2 separate regions of the Homo sapiens genome follow, and region 2 is linked to region 1. The links come from fine-mapping of genetic effects on gene expression. A gene starts in region 1. The other region holds a variant in brackets. All regions are shown on one strand. Distances are from middle to middle.

The links. PIP is the estimated chance that this variant, and not a neighbour inherited with it, causes the effect.
Region 2: its variant is fine-mapped to the expression of YTHDF3 in whole blood (TOPMed, PIP above 0.99).

What each region holds. Positions count from the first base shown.
Region 1 is chr8:63,162,494-63,174,066 of GRCh38, forward strand. YTHDF3 (YTH N6-methyladenosine RNA binding protein F3) reads left to right here and starts at 6,128. Exons shown (of 5, transcript NM_152758.6): 1 at 6,128-6,408; 2 at 6,894-6,918. The coding sequence starts at 6,385. It overlaps YTHDF3-DT (YTHDF3 divergent transcript), which reads right to left and starts at 5,949. Exons shown (of 1, transcript NR_102684.1): 1 at 5,232-5,949. RefSeq lists enhancers at 5,671-5,890, 6,091-6,410 and a silencer at 6,491-6,730.
Region 2 is chr8:63,187,261-63,198,833 of GRCh38, forward strand. YTHDF3 (YTH N6-methyladenosine RNA binding protein F3) reads left to right here. Exons shown (of 5, transcript NM_152758.6): 4 at 1-485. Among named protein-coding and RNA genes, the nearest start is that of YTHDF3, 24 kb to the left of the region's middle. The variant A/C (reference allele first, on the strand shown) is at 4,945.

The DNA.
Region 1 (11,573 bases):
AGGGATTGTAAATACACCAATCAGCACCCTGTGTCTAGCTCAGGGTTTGTGAGTGCACCAATCAACACTGTATCTAGCTTCTCTGGTGGGGCCTTGGAGAGTCTTTATGTCTAGCTCAGGGATTGTAAATACACCAATCAGCACCCTGTGTTTAGCTCAAGCTTTGTGAGTGCACCAATGGACACTCTGTATCTAGCTGCTCTGGTGGGGCCTTGGAGAACCTGTGTGTTGAAACTCTGTATCTAACTAATCTGATGGGGACGTGGAGAACCTTTGTATCTAGCTCAGGGATTGTAAACACACCAATCAGCGCCCTGACAAAACAGGCCACTCGGTTCTACCAATCAGCAGGATGTGGGTGGGGCCAGATAAGAGAATAAAAGCAGGCTGCCCGAGCCAGCATTGGCAACCCGCTCGAGTCCCCTTCCACGCTGTGGAAGCTTTGTTCTTTTGCTCTTTGCAATAAATCTTGCTACTGCTCACTGTTTGGGTCCACACTGCTTTTATGAGCTGTAACACTCACCGCGAAGATCTGCAGCTTCACTCCTGAGCCCAGTGAGACCACGAGCCCACTGGGAGGAACGAATAACTCCAGACGCGCTGCCTTAAGAGCTGTAACACTCATCGCGAAGGTCTGCCGCTTCGCTCCTGAGCCAGTGAGACCACGAACCCACCAGAAGGAAGAAACTCCGAACACATCTGAACATCAGAAGGGACAGACTCCAGACGCGCCACCTTAAGAGCTGTAACACTCGCTGCGAGGGTCCGCGGCTTCATTTTTGAAGACAGTGAGACCAAGAACCCACCAATTCCAGACACACCACCACCACTGTCGGCTTTTTTTTTTTTTTTTTTTTAATACATGGACTTTTGGTCCAACCCTAGAGCTTCTGATTCTGTAAATAAGGGCTGAGTCCTGAGAATCTGCATTTGAATAAGTTCCTAGGAGATGTTGCTGCTAGTCCCAAGGAAACAGTTTGAAGAAATTGCTTTAAGCAAATCTTAAGGTTATTTGATGTTTTCTGCTGCCTTTTTCTTACCATTGTAAATTTCTCTGCAGTAAACTTAAGAATAAATGGAAAAGTTTTGGCTTTTCTGTTTCAAAGCAGATTGATTGACTGATTTTTTACTTTATTCAGTGTCCTTCTTAGCTATTAGTGGTTTTACCTTATGCATGATATTTAAGAATACCTCCTTTTAAAAGTGCATCGATCAATCCTCAAGCTGAATTCTCTACACTTCGTTCATGTACTATATATGTTACTTAAAGATAACAGAAAGCCTTATAAATTTTGGCTTAAACACTGGTAAAATTCAAAGATAAGTTTAAGTGCTGCTAGTTAACAAAGCAAATCCAGGAAATTACTAGGCACAGAGTTTATTACTAAGTATCCCCCCACCCATTCTCCCCCTCTTCCTTAGTAATAAACATCCTCATTTTTAACTGAACACATGGCCACTCAGAATATATTTTCCAGCTTTCACTTAACTTTAAATACTTGTAGGAAACTATGTTTTAGTTAGTAGAAAGTAGCCAGAAATGTTAATATAGTTTGGATGTTTGTCCCCTCCAAATTTCACAATTAAATGTAATCCCCAGCCGGGTGCGGTGGCTCAAGCCTGTAATCCCAGCACTTTGGGAGGCCGAGGCGGGCGGATCACAAGGTCAGGAGATCGAGACCATCCTGGCTAACACGGTGAAACCCCGTCTCTACTAAAAATATGAAAAATTAGCTGGGCGTGGTGGCAGGATCCTGTAGTCCCAGCTACTTGGGAGGCTGAGGCAGGAGAATGGTGTGAACCTGGGAGGCGGAGCTTACAGTGAGCCGAGATCGTGCCACTGCACTCCAGCCTGGGCGACAGAGCAAGACTCCATCTCAAAAAAAAAAAAAAAAAAAGTAATCCCCAATGTTGAGGGTGGAGAGGCATTTGGATCACTGGGGCAGATCCTTCATGAATGGTTTAGCACCATCCCCTTGGTGATGATTGAGTTCTTTCTCTGAGTTCACAGAAGATCTGGTTGTTTAAAAGTGTGTGTCACCTCCCCCATCTCACTCTTGCATCCATTCTCGTCATGTGTAAGCTAGCTCCCCCTTTGCCTTCTGCCATGATTGCAAGCTTTCTGAGGCCTCATCAGAAGCCAAGCAGATGCTGGACCATGCTTCCTGAATAGCCTGCAGAACAGTAAGTCAATGAAACCTCTTTTCTTTATAAATTTCCCAGTCTCGGGTATTCCTCTGTAGCGATGCAAAAACAGACTAATACAAATGGGAAAAATGCAATTTCTACAAAATGTCCTTAAAGGAGAACAATGTGCTTTCTTAACCTTGTTTTTCTGCTGGTGGGAATGTGATTAGGATGGCTGGAAGTTGAGCAGCCATCATGGGCCACAGGTAGAGGTATCATAATGAGGATTGTTAGATATGAGTTCTAAATTTCTTTTCAAAGAATCAATATGTCAGTATGTTCAATTCTTTGCCTTTTACTTTTAAACTTAACTTCCTCATAAAGCAACCTTTTTCGATTACCTGCTCCATCCTGACTCATTCTGATTACCTACTCCACCCTGACTCATTCCAATTACCTGCTCTGTCATAACCATTTTTCCCGCCAAACCACTCACCCTGTCAGTCTCTTTAAGTTAGCCAGTCAGAATTAGTTTAGCCTGTGCGGTCTAACCCTAGCCAATAGGGGAACAACACAGCAGAAGGGGCCACATGCGTCAGGGATAGAACCCCTTCCCTTCCCTTGTCTAAGTCTGTGCTCACCGTTGTTCCATCTGTAAGGGTGCACCCTTCTGTAGAAGTAACTTGCCTTGCTGAGAATTAAAAAGTAAATTCTATATTCGAGTGCTACTTCTTTTGTGGCAACAAAACTTTATTTATAACAGGATGGTGGAACAACAGACTAGAAGAAGCCTGGATTATCTGATACAATGGCAACCCAAGTCCTGGAGTATATCCAGACTGCTGTTGTATGAGAAAAACAGATTTCTATCTTCGGCTCCTGTTATTTTGAACTTGATACCACTTGTAGCTGAACCTAATTTGAACTGATACAAGTAATCATACAGAAGTTACAGTTGTGCAGACTGGAACTTCACTGTCTGTAATTTCAGCACTTTGGGAGGCCAAGGTGGGAGGATCCCTTGAGCCCAGGAGTTGGAGACCAGCCTGGGCAACATAGCAAGAACATGTTGCTATAATTAAACAACAAAACAACAAATAACAACAACACACGCACACACAAACACCAAAGTTGGCTGAGGGAAAAATGGGGCCTTAAATCCAGCCTGCCCTCTCCTTTCCAAGCTTTGCACTGTGCTGTGTGCTCCAGGAGACTGACACACCCTAGTGGCTCTTTAGAAGAGTGCATTTTTACCTAGAAACTAGGCTCTGTGGCAACATTTTTCAAAATATCCTCTCCATTCTCCTTGCCCAAGACCATGGGAACCCATCTCTTGCATCATCATGACATGGATGTGAGACCTGGAGTCAAAGGGGATCATTTTGGAGCTTTAAAATTTGAGTGCCCTTTGCATGGGCCCTGTAACCCCTTTGTTTTGGCCAATTTCTCCCATTTGGAATGGCTGTATTTACCCAATATCTGTACCCCCTTTGTATCTACGAAGTAGCTGGCTTGCTTTTTATTTTACAGGCTCATAGGCGAAAGGGACTTGCCTTGTCTCAGATGAGACTTTGGACTGTAGACTTTTGGGTTAATGCTGAAATGAGTTAAGACTTTGGGGTACTGTTGGGAAGGCATGATTGGTTTTGAAATGTAAGAAATGAGATTTGGAGGGGCCAGGGCAGAATGATATAGTTTGGCTATGTCCTCACCCAAATCTCAACTTGAATTTATCTCCCAGAATTCCCACGTGTTGTGGGAGGGACCCAGGGGGAGGTAATTGAATCATGGGGACCGGTATTTCCCATGCTAATCTCATTATAGTGAATTAAGTCTCATGAGATCTGATAGGTTTATCGGGGTTTCCCACTTTTGCTTCTTCCTCATTTTCTCCTGCTGCCCTCCATGTAAGAAGTGGCTTTTGCCTCCTGCCGTGATTCTGAGGCCTCCCCAGCCATGTGGAACTTTAAACACAATTTAACCCCTCTTTCTCTTCTCAGTCTCGGGTATGTCTTTATCAGCAGCATGAAAACGGACTAATACACTCCTGGAGGCATTGGAGATGGTTTCAGGTAGTCCCCAGATGTACTTCAAAAGTCTGTTAATATTAAATTAAGTAGGTTTATATCTGAGGGTAGGTATTATTGCTAGGAAGAAAAGCCATAAAGAAAGAAGTTTGTTGAGCAAAAATGAAAGAGAATAGAAGCTCATAATATTATGTCATTAGGCAGTATTATATGGTAGTTATTAGAGTGGGAACTTGGGAGTCACACTGCTTGAGTTCAAATCCTGGCTCTCATAGTGACTAGCTGTGTTGTTTGTGGCGTGTTTCCTAACCTCACTGTGTCAGTTTTTATAATGGCACTTCTGCAAGGATGCTGTGGGAATTAACATGACATATAATGTGTTCTCAATAAATGTAAGCGATTACTATTTCCGGGAATCTTTTAGCGAAGGAACAATTCATTACCTGTATATAGCCACAATTTGCTGAAAGCTTACTTTTGTGTCAGGAACTGTACACGAAGGACCTAATTTTACTCATGAGGAAGCTAAAGCTTAGAAAGTTTCAGTGCCTTTACCAAGATTATAACACTAATTCTTGCTCCACTAGAATTTAAATTCGAATTGATTGGGTTCCAAAGCCATGATACTAAGGATCAAAGACAAGGCTTGCAAGATTTAAGCCTCCTCTTGTATATTCTCTCTCAAGTTCCTGGCTCATAGCATGTACCAGCAAACTCATTAAAACTAAAACGGTCTGTTTGGGAGTGAAGGATGGGAGACATTGAGAGCAACAGCAGAAAGGGTTGGGGGAGTCTTGGGAAATGCAAGGGTGCTTAGGTTGGGACCCGTGGCAATGAATGGAAGGGCAAGGGAAACTGTCTAACCAGAACTTAAAAATGCCTCTTGGTGATTTACATGAAAAGTGGCCTCTCAAGTTTTTCTATTATTCAGTGCTTCTAAGATACTGTTGCACTGTAAACCACAAAATTAATCTTATGATTCTACAATTTTACTTTCTAAATGATCACTTATTTGATGGTTTTTGAAGTACAGAAAGTATTTGGTCATTTAAATTATTTCCTTCCATGGACTCTGTATCACTGAGACAAGGAATCTTTGCCTTTATTGTAGATATTTCAATGAAAATGTCAACACGTTGCAAATTGGCATACTTTGGGTTTGCCAATATGTGATAAAGAACTTTTTCAATGGAAACTTTCCCTCTTTTCAGGGCCGAAAAGACGCTCTGCAACTATACTTAAGTATCCTAGGCAACTTTATTCATTCAAAAACATCAGAGCGGAGTCAAAAGCACAAATCCATGAATTGGGCGGCGAAGTCTGACTCCAGAGATTACGGCTGAACTGGGTTTGGAAAGACTGAACCCGCGCCGGTGCTCCTCCTGTTTGCTTGGACTTAAGTTTGAGTACCACAACTCTAACCTGCCACTTCAGCTGCACGGGCAGGCTTGTGGGGACCCAGCAACTCCGTCCAGAGAGCGGCTGAGTCAGCCAGCCGTCCCCACGGCTTTGGGCAGCCGCCGAAGGCTCCTGCTAGGCCCGGCTGGCTCACCGGGAAGTTCCCTGCCTCCGTCCCGTCAGCCTCCAGGAGGGCGCCGCCGGCCGCCGTGACTTCAGCAAGGCACTACTATCTCCGTCAGCCGCCGCCTCGGCCATCTTCCTGCCCGGAGTGCAACAAAATCCGGCTCTGGCCAGCCTTCCAGCTGACGCCACTCTGCCAGGGCCCTGCAGCCTCGGAGCGGGATAGAAGGAAGCCGCAGAAAAGACGCTGAAAGTTGGCGCTCGCTGACGCCCCGACGCGCTCCCTCCATGACGCATGCGCCCACCGGCCGTGAGCGCGGGTCCGGTCTCCGGTGACGTGGCGGTGAGGAGGCGGAGCCAAGATCAGCGGCGGGAGGGTGGGGGAGGAAGAGCGAGGTGAGCGCGGACGTCAGAGTGGAGAGCGGAAGGTCAGGGAGGCTCGGAGCGGAAGTGAGACTAGGGAGTCTGTCCGCCATTGTGGACCCGAGAAGCAGAGAGCGAGAGGGGGAAGAGGAGCGTGCAAGCGGAAAAGACGGGCCTCTTCCTCCGACTCCCGAGCGCGAGGCCCTCATTTTGGGTTCTCAGCGAACGGCGGCAGCGGCGGCGGCTGGAACAATCACTCGGCCAAGGGCGACAGCCAACTGCTGTGAGTGCACGGGGAGAGGCCCAGGCAGCGGCGGCGGCGGCGGCTCTCGGGTTGCGGTGAAGAATGTCAGCCACTAGCGTGGATCAGGTGAGGGAGCAGAGGCCCCAGGCTTGGCGAAGGCCCGAGCCCCGGAGCTCCACCCTCGCGCGGGGCTTCGGCTCCTCCCCGTCGCCGCCGCTGCCGGCCCCATAACGGTGCCCCGGGCGCAAGTTGCTGCGGTGTAGCTACCCGGGCCGGGGCGTGCGCCCTGGCCCCGTAGCTTGCGGGCGGGCGGGCGCGGTGCCGCGGCGGGTGGGGGCAAGGACCGGTCTTAGGGGCCTTAGGACAGATCCTGAGGGCGGCAGACATGGGGCGGAGACCGGGCGAGCTCTGGGAGACGGATTCCGAGTGGCGGGTGGGAGGTTTAAAGGCTGGGGGTGGTTGGGAAATTGGTGGCTGTGGAGGATATGGTGGGTTTTTACTCCTACGCGGATAGTCTAAAATAACTTGTCTTTGATAATGCCTTTGATTAACACACTTTTTCTTTTCTTCCTTTTTCTCCTCTTTACCGCATCTTTCGTCTTGCAACACAGAGACCTAAAGGGCAAGGAAATAAAGGTGAGTTTGGATTTTTTTTTTTCTTATTGCTCAATGTTGCCTTAATGTTACTTTTAAACTCTGTGAGGGTATTTTGTTTGTTTTTGCTCCCTCTTGGGAAAAAATGTAGGATTAGGGAAAATATTCATCATGGCTAAGGTAGCCAAGTTCTATCCAGAACTTCGGTAGTTCGTTGCTTTGAAGCCACTTTATAGAAACCAAAGTAGTACGAGAAACAGTTTCCTTGTCAGTTAAGCAGGTATTGGTGTGAACCTGGTGGTATTTCTTTGGTTTTCCAGTTTTTCTGTGTTATGTAACTTATGCCACAAAAAATTTCTACATGTGTATATAGACAAGTATATTCTTAAAGTGGACATTTTGTTTGACATGTCTGGATTACACTGGAAAATGGAAGTCTACATAGTATTCCATCACATTAATGAAAATTGTACTGTTAATCACTGATTCTATTGAAGTCAGTTGTAATGAGGCAACAACATGAGAGAGGTTAGAACTGAGTAGGCATGCCATCTTGCTCTATTGTTCTGATTGCAAGGTGTGACTCTATCTGGTATTTTATAAAGGGCTGAGAAGAAAATAGTTTGTGACATTTTTTCCAGGATTTTATAATTTTCTCTTTAGTAAAAGTACCATTGAAAGTAAAGTGTTTTTTTAAAAAGTGTGTTTTGTATTAATATGGAACAGTGCAGTCAGCTGACTGAAACATTATGACATTAGTCATGTGACATTTAGTTAAGTATAGAACAATAACTGCTTTCTTGGGATAGTGCCAATTAAATAACATCAGAGCAAATTATATATAACATTTTGTAGTGCTTGAAATTACACTAAAATTATGCTTTCTGTTGATTTCAGTAACACAGTGTTAGAAATTAAGATCTATAATAGCCTTTTAGATATAGATTGTCTTTGGTGCCCTTTAAATTCTTGTTAGGGTATTTATTTGCTATTGCAAATTTGGTGAATTTAATAGGTTTTGGATATGTAGATTAGTTTCCTCTGAATTATGGAATTTGTACATACCAGTTACATGGCACCATATTAGGTAACATTTTGTTTGTTTTCATTAAAGATGTTTTCTTGCAGTATGTAAATATTTAGACATTTTAATTTTTAAAATTTCATTTCTAGAATTTTTTTTGTTGTAAGCATAAACCTGAAATAAAAATTGGATATTGATTTATTTTAAATGAGTTTTTAAAAATTTGTGAATTTTAAAAAGAATGATCCATTAATTTCTTCTTTTGCTAGTCTACCCATTAGGAACTATGTAGACTTGGAGATTGTGAAATTGTGGTCATTATTGCCTAGCATAAATTATTTTATCCTAGATCTGTGGGGAGGTGGCACTTTGCAAAGCTATTTGAAATGCTAAGTGTTTTATGTTACCCGCTTTAAGGTAAGTACACAAGTTCTATGAGGTACTTGTTTGTTAAAACAAAATAGAGCCTCTACAGCACTGTAAGTCAGTAAAATAAGTTTGATTTATGAGTGGTCATTTCACTTAGGTAGGCACTGGTGGCATCTTTGATATTAGATATGAGTTGAGTTATCTATAAACTGCATAATACATCCACTGTTTGCAAATAAGTATTTTTTGGTTATTTCAAAAATTTTTATCCATCAGTATCGCTTCTGTTAGTTGTATTCAGACACATACACAAAGTGTTTATTTTGATAGTTCTTTATTCTCAAGAAATTTTCTTTCTTTCCCCCTTGTTGTTCAGTTTAATAATTTCATCTAAGGTTAGAATAATGGATTGGGATTCCTTGGAGTCCTGAGTTCTAATACTGCCTTTGGCTACTGACTTGCCAAGTGAGCTTGAAAACATTTTACCTGTCTGTCAGAATCTCCCCTCTATAAAATAAAAATAACTCTAGTCATAATTCCCATAATTCCTATAGTATGTTGTTAGGATTCTTGTAATTACAGTAGTTCACTGCTCTAGTAGCAATTATATTTGCTGGATTTCTTTTCACTTTCCTCACTTAATCTATTTTTAAGGTGCAGGAAGACTCCTTTGCATGGAGCCTTGGCAGGAGGGGAAAAATGCTACTGGCCTGAAAGTATTGCTAATTATTTAAGTTTCTTAAAAATGGCAGATGCTACAAGTGCACAAATAACAAATATACGTTACTTGTATTTTTATGACTGCAGGGAGAATTACAAGGCAAAGGCAACACTACCAGTGAACCTGATATAAGTAGCTATGTGTGTATTTGAGAAAAGCTTTTCTGCCTTAGCTTGTTCCCAGCTCGTAAAATTGTTTTACAATTCTGTTTACTTTCATGAAGTTATTTTTCTTGAACTGCAACCTCAGTATTCTAAATATGAGTAATCTTGAATTCTGAACTTAGCAAGCTTATGAAAAATAGTATGTCCTTGAGAAGTTGGTGTCAGTTAAAGTTTTGAACACGTAATCCTTTTCAGTCAACTTACTATAATTTCAGAGATCCTGTTTCTTTTCTGAATTGTCTTTAGTTGACAGCTTTAGCCTAACACCTAGTTTTAGTGTCTTTGATTTTCTATATATCCTTAATTACTTAATTCATTACAGAAGCCAAAAGGAATTCTAAATAATTGTCTTTGATATGGCAAAAATGTTTTTTGTAGAATAAGTAATAATTCAAGGTTTACTTGTTTTATAAGTTTGAATTCTTTTTTAATTAAGTCTGTCCCTGTGTTAAATATCAGAACTCTTTATTATCCTTGGCAAGAGTAGTACCAAAGGATAGTAGAAATTTAAGGATAATTATTTGCCTATTGGTTCATAATTTAACACTTCGTATTTTATTTTTTTATTAAGTAGAATTTTTGCTTATTGGAATAAAGGTGTGCAGTACTTTTATTTGGGAGTACTATGGTTGGAAGTGTCAGATGCCATACTTACAGTCTTAGGCCTTACTGCCTCCTTTCTCCTCTAAGTTTATAAATAGCAAATTCATGGAACAGGATTTATCTTTTTCCTCCTCTCCGCTCTCTTCCAACGGAGAGACGTATGCATTGTTTTATACAACTGTAATTTAAAATAATTAGGTTAAATTTGGCTAAGTTTTAATTTTCGAAAAGTAGTGGAAAATGCCTTATATTTTGGCAATATTCTGTTGTATTCTCTCCTCGTCCTCCCGAGAAATGATTTCAAAGCACTTTACTATCATTATTTTAGGCTTCATTTTATCAATCCTCACAACATCCTTGTAAGGAGATAGCGGGTATATGGTATTGTCGCTGTTTTTGTAGGTGGGGAAACATGATGCACAGATCTGTTGACTTTCCTAACTTGATGTAGTCAGGACCAGAGCAAAGAATCACCTGGCTCCTAAGGCCCATGTTCTATCTTGATTTGACTCTGTTTCATAGAGCAGAGGAAACAGGCGAAGAATCATGTAAGTCATCTGTTCTTTTTACCCCTGAAGAAATTTTACAGACTATGGAACTAGCTTGGATTTCATTTCTATTTAATGGTTTTCAGACTCCAAGACATTAGCTTGTCATTAAGTAAATATTCAAAAACGAAAGTCTTTAAGATAGTTTTCTTTAAGATACACTTCCAAAACTTAAGGGCTAGTTTAATGCAAATTGCTTCTCGGTATATGTGAAGTACTTTTAATTAAACATTTTTTAAAGTAGATTGACTTTTTGTACTATATTTTAAGACTTTATAGACATTTATGCATCATTTAAAAATGACCGTAGACTGTATTTATAATAGTATATGGGTTGTTCTCAGGCCTAGCCTCTTAGAAGAGAAATAATAGAACAAAAAAAATAAGAATAACAGGATTATATTTATATATATATACAGATAAATTTTAAGTAAGTACTTTTTCCTTTTTTTTTTTTTAAATAGAGGCAGAGTCTCACTCTGTACCCCAGGCTGGAGTGCAGTGGCATAATCATAGCTCAGTGTAACCTGGAATGCCTTGGCTCAAGTGATCCTCCTTAGACTCCTGAGTAACTAGGACTATAGGCACATGCCACCACTCCTGGCTAATTTCTAAACATTTTTCGTAAAGGTGGGATCTTGCTGTGTTGCCCAGGCTGGTCTTGAGCTCCTGGCCTGGCACTTTTTGTATTTGTATGAACTAGATTTTCGAGAACCTAGTGGATATGAGAGATAGTTAGTCATAATTTTTAAGTTGTTAGCTGTTTCAAATACTGACTAACATGTATGAGTGTAATAGTGAAGAATTTTTTTTCAAGAAGTAATAGACCATGCATACTTACCTTTGATTTAGGAGCAGTAAAGCCAGTGTCAGAGGAGAACAGGTATGTCAGAATCTCTTGGACTGAAATGAATAACCCAGCCTTATAATGGCACTAGAAGTAACCTAAGGCACCCTCTTTATTTTGGTTTCTAGTGGCTATTACATATTTAAATTCCATGGAGCATATTTAGCTCAATCCTAGTTCTGATGCAGTCCTTATCAGACATAGTTAAATTATGTTAGTGGAGCCAGGATCAAGTTGACCTTCAGGTTGCTTCTTGTGGCCTCTGAGGGGCAGTGTGGTGTAGTAAGAAGTCTACTTTGAATGCTTTACACAGTAACATCATATCTTTGATCTTTGCCACTCATTGGATGGCAAAGATTTAAGGGATTTTGTATATCTTTGCTCCCAAGCCACTGTTAACTCATAATATTACATTTTAGGT
Region 2 (11,573 bases), 25 kb after region 1:
GTGTGTTTATAATTAAAAGCTACTCTGAGGATGACATACATCGTTCCATTAAATACTCTATCTGGTGTAGTACTGAGCATGGTAATAAGCGTTTGGATGCAGCTTACCGTTCCCTGAATGGGAAAGGCCCACTCTATTTACTCTTCAGTGTGAATGGCAGTGGACATTTTTGTGGAGTGGCTGAAATGAAGTCTGTTGTGGACTATAATGCGTATGCTGGTGTCTGGTCTCAGGATAAGTGGAAGGGCAAATTTGAAGTTAAATGGATCTTTGTCAAAGATGTTCCCAATAACCAATTACGGCATATTCGCTTAGAAAATAATGACAACAAACCGGTTACCAATTCAAGGGACACTCAAGAGGTACCCCTAGAAAAAGCTAAGCAAGTGCTTAAAATAATTGCTACTTTCAAGCATACCACCTCAATCTTTGATGACTTTGCACATTATGAAAAGCGTCAAGAAGAGGAGGAAGCCATGCGTAGGGTAAGAATATAGTAATTTTTTGTTTGGGGTCTTTGTATTGCTGGTGGGGTGCATGGATGGGTATATTCTGAGTTTAAGAACTTTCTGTGAAGGAAACCAACTACTTAAGAAACAACTCTACAAACACCCTTGAAGGTATCTATGTGTGTCCTATATGAACCATTTCTTCTTTCCTTTCCCAGGGTAACTCACGCTGAGTTAGCCTCTTGCTCATTCTTCATACTCCCTAGATGATAAAGGCCATTGGGCCTCAGTGTTTATCATCAAAGCTGAATGAATTTTGGCATTTGTAACTAAACAGACTTCATGAACTAACCAGGGGCTCTAATCATTAATATTATTAATCATACTAACATAGGAGAAAATATATTTAGAGTTTGAAACAACTTTTTTTTTGAGATGACATCTTGCTGTGTTGCCCAGGCTGGAGTGCAGTGGCTATTCACAGGTGCAGTTATGGCGTATAGCCTCAAGTTCCTGGCCCCAAGCAATCCTCCTGCCTTAGACTCCCAAGTAGCTGGGACTACAGACCTGTACCACTGAACCTGGCACTTAAAACAAGTTTTTATTTATTTATATTTTATATATTATTTAATTTTTTTTCAGACAGGGTCTCTCTTGTCCCGGCAGGAGTGTACTGGCGTGAACATGGCTCACTGCAGCCTTGATCTGCTGGGCTCAAGTGATCCTCCTACCTCAGCTTCCCGAGTAGCTGGGACTACGGTCACACACCACCACGCCTGGCTAATTTTTGTATTTATTGTAGATAGAGGGTTTCACCATGTTGCCCGGGCTGGTCTCCTGAGCTCAAAGGATCTGCCCCTACCCCTCTGCCTCCCAAAATGTTGGGATTACAGTCCTGAGTCACTGCACCCAGCTGAAACAACTTTTAAATAAATGTTTTACTCTAATTTTGTGTTTATAAGAAATTACATATATATATATATATATATATATTTTTTTTTTTTTTTTTTTTTTTCTTTTGTGAGATGGAGTCGCTCTCTGTCGCCCAGGCTGGAGTGCAATGGAGTGGTCTTGGCTCACTGCAACGTCCGCCTCCCGGATTCAAGTGATTCTCTTGCCTCAGCCTCCCGAGTAGCTGGGATTACAGGCACACGCCACCATGCCTGCCAAATTTTTGTATTTTTAATAGAGACGAGTTTCACCATGTTGGCCAGGCTGGTCTTGAACTGCTGACCTCGTGATCCGTGCGCCTCGGCCTCCCAAAGTGCTGGGATTACAGGCATGAGCCACTGTGCCTGGCAAAATATGTTTTTAAAACATAAAACTCTTGAAGTATTTTTATAATTTTTATACTTAAAGCACTTGTACAAAATAGAGGCTTTGCAGAATTTGATTCCTAATTCTGTTATATACCCTCTGTAAGATTGAGGGAGACATTCCTGAAATAAAACATGCTGTTTATCCTTGTATTATATTGGCCAGAATATTTTTATTTTTATTTTTTAAAAATATCCTATTGAGTGGCCCATATGGGGATTAGCCCCCCAAATATTGGCTAGACTTTGATCACAGGGCCACAAGAGTCAGTTCAACTAGGGAAAGTTTTCTCTTCCAAACTGTAACGTAAAATTGGGGTCCTATTTTTAGGTGGAAAGAGAAAATGGATGGGCTTTTCTATAGGGGATACATTTAAATTTCTTTTGAAACTTAGTAGGGGTAAAGTTAGAAGCTCCTCCAGTAAATAATGCTTGTTACTATGGAAAGCATGTTCTTATGGAATGCTTGTTCCTATGTAGAAATTAAGATAAAGAGGTAACTTAACTCTATGTAAAATCAGTGATTGTTTCTGTGTGTGAAGCTGAATATCTTGTCTTTGTGGTTGTGTGCAGCACAGGGAAGTGCTTCAACATTCCTCAGAGGGAAGGTGTTGGAATAATGACCCTAGAGCAGTAGTTTCCAAACCTTAAGTCACATAAGTGTTAATTGGGGTGTTTATTGAAATTGCAGATTCTCGAGACCCATCCCTTGGTATATTTGATAAAGGAACTTGCAGTGTACTTTTTAAGTATAAACATTCCAGGTGATTCTGGTGCTAGTTATTGATTGCTGTGTTGGATTGTTGGAAACTTTGCTTTGGAGTAATTAATACAAATGACTTTAAGGCTCTGCTGAACCTTTTAGATGGGTTGCTGAATATAATTGTGTTTTCTCCCACTTAAATATGAGAAATGAGAGAAATGGGATCAAAAGTAGCTACTGAGTCTTTCAGTTTAGCAGTTAAGTAAAGTGGTCATATTGTAACTGCCATTACAAGTAGCGCATCAGGAGAAATGATTTGAGGTATGAAAGGTGGGATGCAAGTTAAGACTTCATTTTTAGATTGTGCTGATTTTAAGATACCTTTGAGAAATATAGGCAGCAAAATCTCTGATTAGGCAGTTAGATGTCCGAGTCACAGATTTGGGGACCTTTTGTTCTTAAACAGTTAATAGCATGGAAGTGGGATGAGATTACTTAGGACAAAGGATACATGGCAAGGAAATACCAACTTTTCTTTCGCCCACCACTGAGGAGATAATCACCCTTCTGTGTCTTTTTTTTTTTCTACCAAACTTGAAAATTTAATCCTGGTTTTGTTATAATGTATTTGGTATGTTAATATTATGTAGTTGTTTCAGGAAATTTTTAATGACAGGTATATATTGTAGCTGTATTATTATATATATTGTAGCCATATACACAACAGTGATTTAAACTTTAATATTACCCTTATATTGTTTCATTGTTTTGTTAAATAAAGTTTATCCTAAAGCCGCCTCCTTACATATTTTAAGTCCAGCCTAAAGGTTTTTCTGTACATGGCGAACTATAACAAGTGGAGGTATAAACAGACCGCAGCCTACTCTTGTGCCAGTGACCAAATTTTGGCTGAATCAAATGTAGCCAACTGTTCAAATAAGGCAAATACCAACCTGTAATCAATCCAGCTGTTTATCTCACTTCCGTTTTCTGTATATCACTTTTCCTTTTTCTGTCTATAAAACTTCCACCACAGGGCTGTGCTTGAATGTCAGAGCCTACTCTGGCTGGCTCTGTGATTCGTGAATCACATTCATTGCTCAGTTAATCTCCTTTAAATTTAATTCAGCTGAAGTTTTTCTTTTGTCACGTTGCTGCCACCCTTTTTAATGCCTAACCCACCTTTGACAGCTCTATTTTGAACCTTGTTTAACTTATTATTTATTAGCAAGCCTTTAGATCCATAAAATGTCTTTGGTCAGAATATGTAAGCAACCATTTAGCTGGGTATAGAATTCTTTCTAGTCAACAGCCTTTTCACTTAAAGTACTATGTATAAGCCTTGCTTTACAGTTATGTGGTTTTATATTATGGAAAATTCTGAGGCCAGCCTACATTTTTTGTTTGTAAATAGCTGTTTTTTTGGTGTGTGCACAAAAGATTTTTCTTTATTTTTACATTATGAATGTAAATGTGAAAACGTGTACAATATGAATATTGTTTTCTGTAATCCTTTGTCTGCAGGCCACTTTTTTCTATTAATGTCAACAAATATGTTGAATCTTTGCCCTTGAGTTCTGTTGGTTCTTTATTCTTTTTCTCTTCATTTGGAGGATTTGAATTTTCCTGCTCACATATTTTTCAGTGTATTTTATTTGTGCTGTTTCTGTGATTTGTGAGGTTTTGCATTCTTCACTGATAGTATTTGTTTGCTTCTATTATCACATTCAGCTCCCCCTCTTAACTCTGTTTTCTTAATGGAATCCCTTGATCCTAGAATTCATCTTGATTTTATTGAGCACAAAAGACTGTGTTTAAAACTTATGTCTGCTTTCTGTACTTAATGTTTTTAGAAACTTTATATCTTTTTTCTTCTAAAAAAAATTAAATATAATAAAATTGTAAATTTCCTTGACCAGCCAGTTTATAGTCAAGCCCTCTCTCTCCCTCTCATTACTGAACCACTGATTGGTTGTTTGTCCCTATAAGACATTTTCCATATTGTCATAATTGAAATTATGTACTATATGATCTTTTAAGATGTTTATCTTTCACTCAGCATGGTATCTTTGCAATTCATCTATGTCGTTGTGTAACTCAATTCTTTGTTCCTTTTTATTACTAGGTAGTTTTCTATTACATGGATGGATGACCATTGTGTCTATTCCATTCATCCTTTGAAGGATATTTGGGATGTTTTCCTTTTGGGGGTAATGTAAATAAGGCTCCTATAAGAATTTGTGTATACTTAAAATATGTATATTTTTAAATCATACAATAAAATTCACTTTTGGCGGGGGCGTACAGCTCTATGAATTTTAACATATGTAGATTTGTGTAACCACCCTATCAGTTAGGATACAGAACAGTTTCGTCATCCCCCAAACCCTCCCTTATATACTAGCCTTTTGTTTTTCCATGCTTCCCCCATGCCTAAGCCCTGACAGCCACTCATCTGGACTCATAATTTTGTAAT[A/C]TCCTTTGTGGTTGTGGTGGCTTCAGGACTGTCTTTGGGCTTTTTGTGTTTAGTCATTGAACCAGTAAGAGAATCATTGAGTTCAGTTATTTGTCTCAGAATGGGTACTTTTACCCTCCCCACCCCGTTTCTTTCATTGCTGGATGCTAGTTGCATATACCTTTCTCTTTGCAAATGTGGAGATGGGAGAGTCATGCTGTAAATTGATTTTACCAGTTAAGTGATTGACCAGCCTGTGGAGATTTAAAAGGGAAAGCCAGTATAATGGGTTGTGCTAGGTATTTGACTGTCCCTTAAGTTTGAAACCACTGTGTTAGAAACCAGTTTTCCTTGCTTGTTAGCTGGTTAGCATATAGGGTACCATGTGTTTTTGTCCAGTTTTCTTCCTGGTACTTTTAGCCTTGTGTAGGCAGAATTTGTATTTTCATTTGTTGATTTTCTCTTTGATATGCTTGTGCTTGCATTTGGACTTCCCAGTATAACTGCTTTCAAATACTTTGGTCATTTTAGTGCTGAAGGAAGGATGTGCTGCCTGTCTATTCTAGGTCCTTCACTTCATTGAAAAGAACAAATTAGTGGTATTTTACTAGGATTTTCTTTACTACTTATGCCTTTTTTTTTTTTTTTAAATAAAAGTAGTTGTAAGTCATTATTAGTGTCTGGTTTTAATATGGCCTTATCTGTCATGTATTTAGCTGGAATTTCTCAAAGCTTCTGGTATGTGGATGTACTATATCCCCAAGTGAATATCTTGGAAACCTTGGGTAAAGGTTGGGTTTCTTAAACTCAACCTTGGGGGAGGCAGCACTAATTGCAAAAGACTGCTACATTTGATTAGATTAAAATCTGTCCATCAAAAGATGCTTTAAAGAAAGTTTAAGAGGCCTGGCTGGGCATGGTGGCTCACATGTGTAATCCCAACACTTTGGGAGGGAGGCCCAGGCGCATGGATTGCTTGAGGTCAGGTGTTTGATACCAGCCTGGCCAACATGGTGAAACTCTGTCTCTACTAAAAATACAAAAGTTAGCCAGGCATGGTGGTGCATGCCTGTAGTCCCAGCTACTCGGGAGGCTGAGACAGGAGAATTGGTTGAACCAGGGAGGTGGATTGCAGTAAGCCAGGATTGCACCACTCCACTCCAGCCTGGGTGACAGAGCTAGACTCCGTCCAAAAAAAAAAAAAAAAAAAAAAGCAGCAGCAGCCATGTTTCTTAAAAGACTAAAAGAAATTTGAACTTAACTGACTAAAGATTTTTATCAAGAGTATATAAGCTAGTGTGGTGGTGCATGCCTGTATTCACAGCTACCCAGGAGGCTGAGGCAGAAGGATTGCTTCATCCCAGGAGTTTGAGACCAGCCTGAGTAGCACAATGAGAGCCCATCTCTAAAATAAATGAATATATTTTTAAAAGAATATATATAGAAATTCTGTGAATTAATTTAAGAAAAGATAACCAATAGAAAAATAGTCAAAGATGTGAATAGGCATTTAATGAGAGGAAAAACATGTAGCTAATAAGAATATAAAGGCTTACGAAAAATGAGGGAATACGAGTCAGGACTACAGTGAGAATATTTTATATCCATTCATTTGGCAAAATTAAGAAGTTTGACAGTATCAAGTATTGGAAAGATTGTAGATCAACAAGACCTCTTACACAGTTGTAAATGAGAATCTAAATTGATAAATCTACTTCAAGAAGCAGTTTTGTATTTTCCTGTAAAGTTGAACATAATCTACCTTATAATTCAGCAGTTGTTTTCTGGGATACATACCTAATAGAAACTTTCATGTATAAGAATGTTAGGAGCAATCAATAGTTTTTTTTTTTTTTCCCCAAAAAAATGGCAGCAGTTCAAATGTCCATCATTAGGAAAATGGCCAAATATATTGGTGCCTGAGACAGTATAACAGAATAAACTGTAGTTAGATGCGAAAGTATTGGTAACTATACTTTTGCTTCATCTTTTTGGTCGTAAATAAACTTTTTGGGAGAGGCCGGGCATGGTGGCTCACGCCTGCAATCCCAGCATTTCGGGAGGCCGATGCAGGAGGATCACCTGAGATCAGGAGTTTGAGATCAGCCTGGCTAACATGTTGAAACCCCTTTTCTACTAAAAATACAAAAAATTAGCCGGGCATGGTGGCACATGCCTGTAATCCCATCTACTCGGGAGACTGAGGCAGGAGAATCACTTGAACCCGGTAGGCAGAGGTTGCAGTGAGGCGAGTTCGTGCTATTGCACTCCAGCTTGGGCAACAAGAGCGAAACTCTGTCTCAAAAAACAATAAAAGTAAAAAAAAAATAAATAAATTTTGGGGGGAATAAGAATATGTGAAACATTCATACCTTTTATCCAGATTCGCTTATTATTAACATGCTTCCCCATCTGCTTTATGGTTCTTTTGAACCACTTGAGATAACTTTCCCCCAGAAAACTATAGTGTTTTTTTCCTATAGGAAAGAATAAGGGTATTATCTTGCATAACCACAATATTCTGTCAGATGATCCATGGAATTGCTTATTGCTTTCTTCTAGTAGTGAATCCAGTCTAGGATCAGGTAAAGGATCTAACTTGGTTACAACAATTTTGAATAGTAAGTTTAGAAGGGTTATACTAACCTGCTTTCCCCAAGTTTGGGGAGATTTTAACTAAAATTTACATTGAGGTCTATAGTTACCGTATCTTTCTTTCATTTCCTTCCTATGTTCATGTTTTTCTTTAAATTCTTGAGCCTGATTATGACAACAAACAAGGACTTTAAAAACCTAATTTCATCTCTTGTCATTGCTAGATATTTTTTATTGACTGATTATTTTGGCAACAGGAGTTCCTCGGCTTGCCTTGCCAGCCAACAAGGCTCTTCCTGTGGAGGAGCCAACCTGTCATATCCTGTCTGCTTATATAAAACTTGGAATGTCAGGCCCTCTATTTTAGAGTGAAGGGTATTGGTGAAGCTTCAAATTGTCGGAGAAATCCATGCTAGTTAGTATTTGTATTATATTTGAAAACATAATTTTGATATATTTGAGTAAAATCAAGCTTGATGAATGAATAACCAATACCCCATTAAAAGAAGCTGTAATTCCGGGTGTGGAAGATAACTAAAAATACAAAACAAAATTGTGATTTGTGTTGTTAGGAAGGATTCCTGTGTAAAAAGAACAGAAAACCAGAAAGTGTTATTGGAAATTAGAGACATAATTATCAGAATTTAAAAATCTGAGTAACCAGATTAATAAAATGTCATGTTTTAGATCCAGTTGATGATCTGAAACTTCAGATTAGAGAAAAATTTCAAATGTGCAGCAATAGAGATGAAAATACAGAATGGGAAAGATGTGATGGAAAGAGAGGTGCTCCAGTATTTCTCTGAAAGAGTGTTAAAAGAATACAGGAAACAATAATCAAAAGGAGGAATGATTAACAAAAACAGATAAATATTTTCAGATGGAATGGGAGGAATACATGAGCCCAGGAGTTGAAGACTACCCTGGGCAACATAGTGAGACCATGTATTTACGTGTGTGTGTGTGTGTGTGTGTGTGTGTGTGTGACCCTGGGCAACATAGACCCTGTATTTACGTGTGTGTGTGTGCGTGCATGTGTGTGTCAGGGTCTCACTCCCATTGCCCAGGCTGGAGTGCAGTGGTGTGATCATAAGTTCACTGCAGCCTCGACTTTCCAGGCTCAGGTGATTCTTCCACCTCAGTCTCCCAAGTACCTGTGACTACAGGCATGCGCCACCATGCCCATCTAATTTTTCTTTGTTTAGTAGAGACAGGATTTTGCCATGTCGCCCAGGTTGGTTTAGAACTTAGAGCTCTGCCCGCCTCAGCCTCTCAAAGTTCTGGGATTACAGGCATGAATCACCACACCTGGCCTTTAGAAAAAATTTAAAAATTAGCCAAGTGTGGTGGCAAGTGCCAGTATTCCAGCTACTTGGGAGGCTGAGTTTGGAGTACTGCTTGATCCTGGGAAGTTGAGGCTGCAGTTAGCCGTGATTGTGCCACTGAACTCCAGCTTGGGCGACAGAAGTCTGTCTCTTAAAAAAAAAAAAAAAAATTAAAGGCTGGGCTTGGTGGCTCAATGCCTGTAATCACAGCACTTTCGGAGGCTGAGGCGGGAGGATCACTTGAGGTCAGGAGTTTGAGACCAGCGTGGCCAACATGGTGAAACGCTGTCTCTACTAAAAATACAAAAATTAGCGAGGCGTGCTGACAGGCACTTGTAATCCCAGCTCCTCGGGAGGCTGAGGTAGGAGAATCACTTGAAACCAGGAGGCGGAAGTTGCAGTGAGCCAAGATTGCGCCACTGCACTCCATCCTGGGCGACAGAGCAAGACTCCGTCTTAAAAAAAAAAAAAAAGAATAAAAAAGGACAAAGACAAAATCTTTAAAAGCTTCCTGAGTAAAAGACAAATTACCTACAAAGAAAGGAGAATCAGACTGTCATCAGAATTCTATAACCCTGGATACTCAAATTTAAAATCTTATTTTTGGGTTGAGAGGGGTGGAGAGGAGTGGTTTATGGAATTATACCTGTAAAGATGAGTGTTTAATTATATCAGTGAGGTGGGTTGGAGGGTCGGGGGAGTAAAAGAAGTGTAGACTTAAAAGAGCTTAGCCACGTACTGTTCATGAAACCATACTTAAAATGTTTCAGCAGAATGAAAAAGAATTCAAGAAAGAACAACAACCCGTAGCACCTGGTTATACTAGAACAAATATCTCTCAGCAGGGACCCTATGTGCATTTTATGTCACACAGGTTGGCATTGTTTATAGAGGATCAGAACTTTTGGCCATCTCATCCTGCCTACTTAATTCGCATTATGGTCCTTCACGCCTGACAGTGTGGGCCCTTGGTTGGGAACCACTGACCTTGGAGAATTGAAGGAAGCTAAAAAAAAATAAAATTTCTAGATAGCCTTTGTCATATTGGAAGATAACCGCTGAAAGAGCAGGCTTTGCTCTCTGCTGAATCCCTAGCACCTAGAAAAATGCTTAGCACACAGTAGGTTTTAAGTAGACATTTGTTAAAAGTGGAAATGCTTTGAAGAATCTCTTCCCATTTGCAAAGTATGAATGTGTAGAATTTTTTCTTCTTTATAGGTGTAATCGCTGTTACTTGATCATTGAAGTTATATAAAATGCTGTCTATTGGTTTTTTTCATTTGTAGAAATGGACAGTAGGATATAAAAGATTTAATTATATTTAGAACAAAATGTTATGAGATGGAATGGGAAGAGTTTAAGGAAGATTAAATCACTTATTGTCTAATCTTTTTGACAGTAACATAATTGTTTAAAGATATATCAGGAACGGTACCTTAAGCATATTGTTTCAAATCATAAGCACAGCCACTGGAATAATTAAAAATAGCGTGGCTTGTAGTACGGGAGAGGAGAAGAGAAGTGGGATATACCATATTCAATGTGATATGGTAAATTACTCATGTACAATGGGAATCGATAGCATCTGAATTGATAAGCAATTTTTGTATTAGTATGCTATTTAAATTTATAATGGCAACCCCTCAGAGGAACTGAATAATAGAAGGGAAAAGAAAAAGAACTAATAAAAATCCTGAGTATATTTGTCCAGTATAAATTCAAATAGTCTGCATAGCAGTAGAATCTACTTTTGACTATTGAGGTGATTCTTTCTTTTGAAATTTTTCCATTGTTGTAGTGAATGTGAGTCATTTAAATCCCCCTGTATTCCTTCATTCTTGTAAATCTTCATTAGTCAGGAAACATAATCCAAGACTATTTTTGGTTCAGTTGCTTTTTTAATTCCACATAGGAATAATTAAGAGTTTTCAATTGCCTATAACATTGAGATAAACTTTCAAATCATGGCATTACCTGTTCCTCCAGAAAGAGATGGAGCCCTGCCGTTTATGCAGAAATAAGCAAGGCATAATTATAATAAAATCTCTAGAATTTTGTGTGTATTTTAGTTCTTTATGCTGTTACATAGTTGGCCATTTCTTTGTTTTCTCTTCTTTCTTTTCTTTTCCTTTCCTTTCCTTTTCCCTCCCCACTCCCCCACCTTCCCTTCTCTTTCTTTTCTTTCCAGAGCCTTGCTCTGTTGCCCAGGCTGGAGTGCAGTGGCACAATCTGGGCTCACTGCAGTCTCCACCTTCGGGATTCAAACGATTCTCATGCCTCAGCCTCCCGAGTAGCCAGGACTACAGGTGTGCGCCACCATGGCTGGCTAATTTTTGTATTTTTAGTAGAGATGGGGTTTCACCATGTTGGCCAGGCTGGTCTCAAACTCCTGACCTCAGGTCATCTGCCCACCTCTGCCTTCCAAAGTGCTGGGATTACAGACTTGAGCCACCGTGCCTGGCCAAGTTGGGCATTTCTGAAGATTTAAGTTTTAGTGCCTGATACATTTTTTTTCATATTTGGAATAACTTTAAGATGAGATGATGTTAGGTCTATCTCAGAGTACTCAACTTTGTGTTAACATAGAAGAAATTACTTCAAAAATAGTTATACTTATGACAACAGCAAACATTTCCCTGGCAGTTTTTAGTAACGTGGATTGAAGTGTATTCTATTACCCTTTGGTAAATTTTTCTGTGGTTATAGTTCTCTGTTGATGAAAAAGTTTAT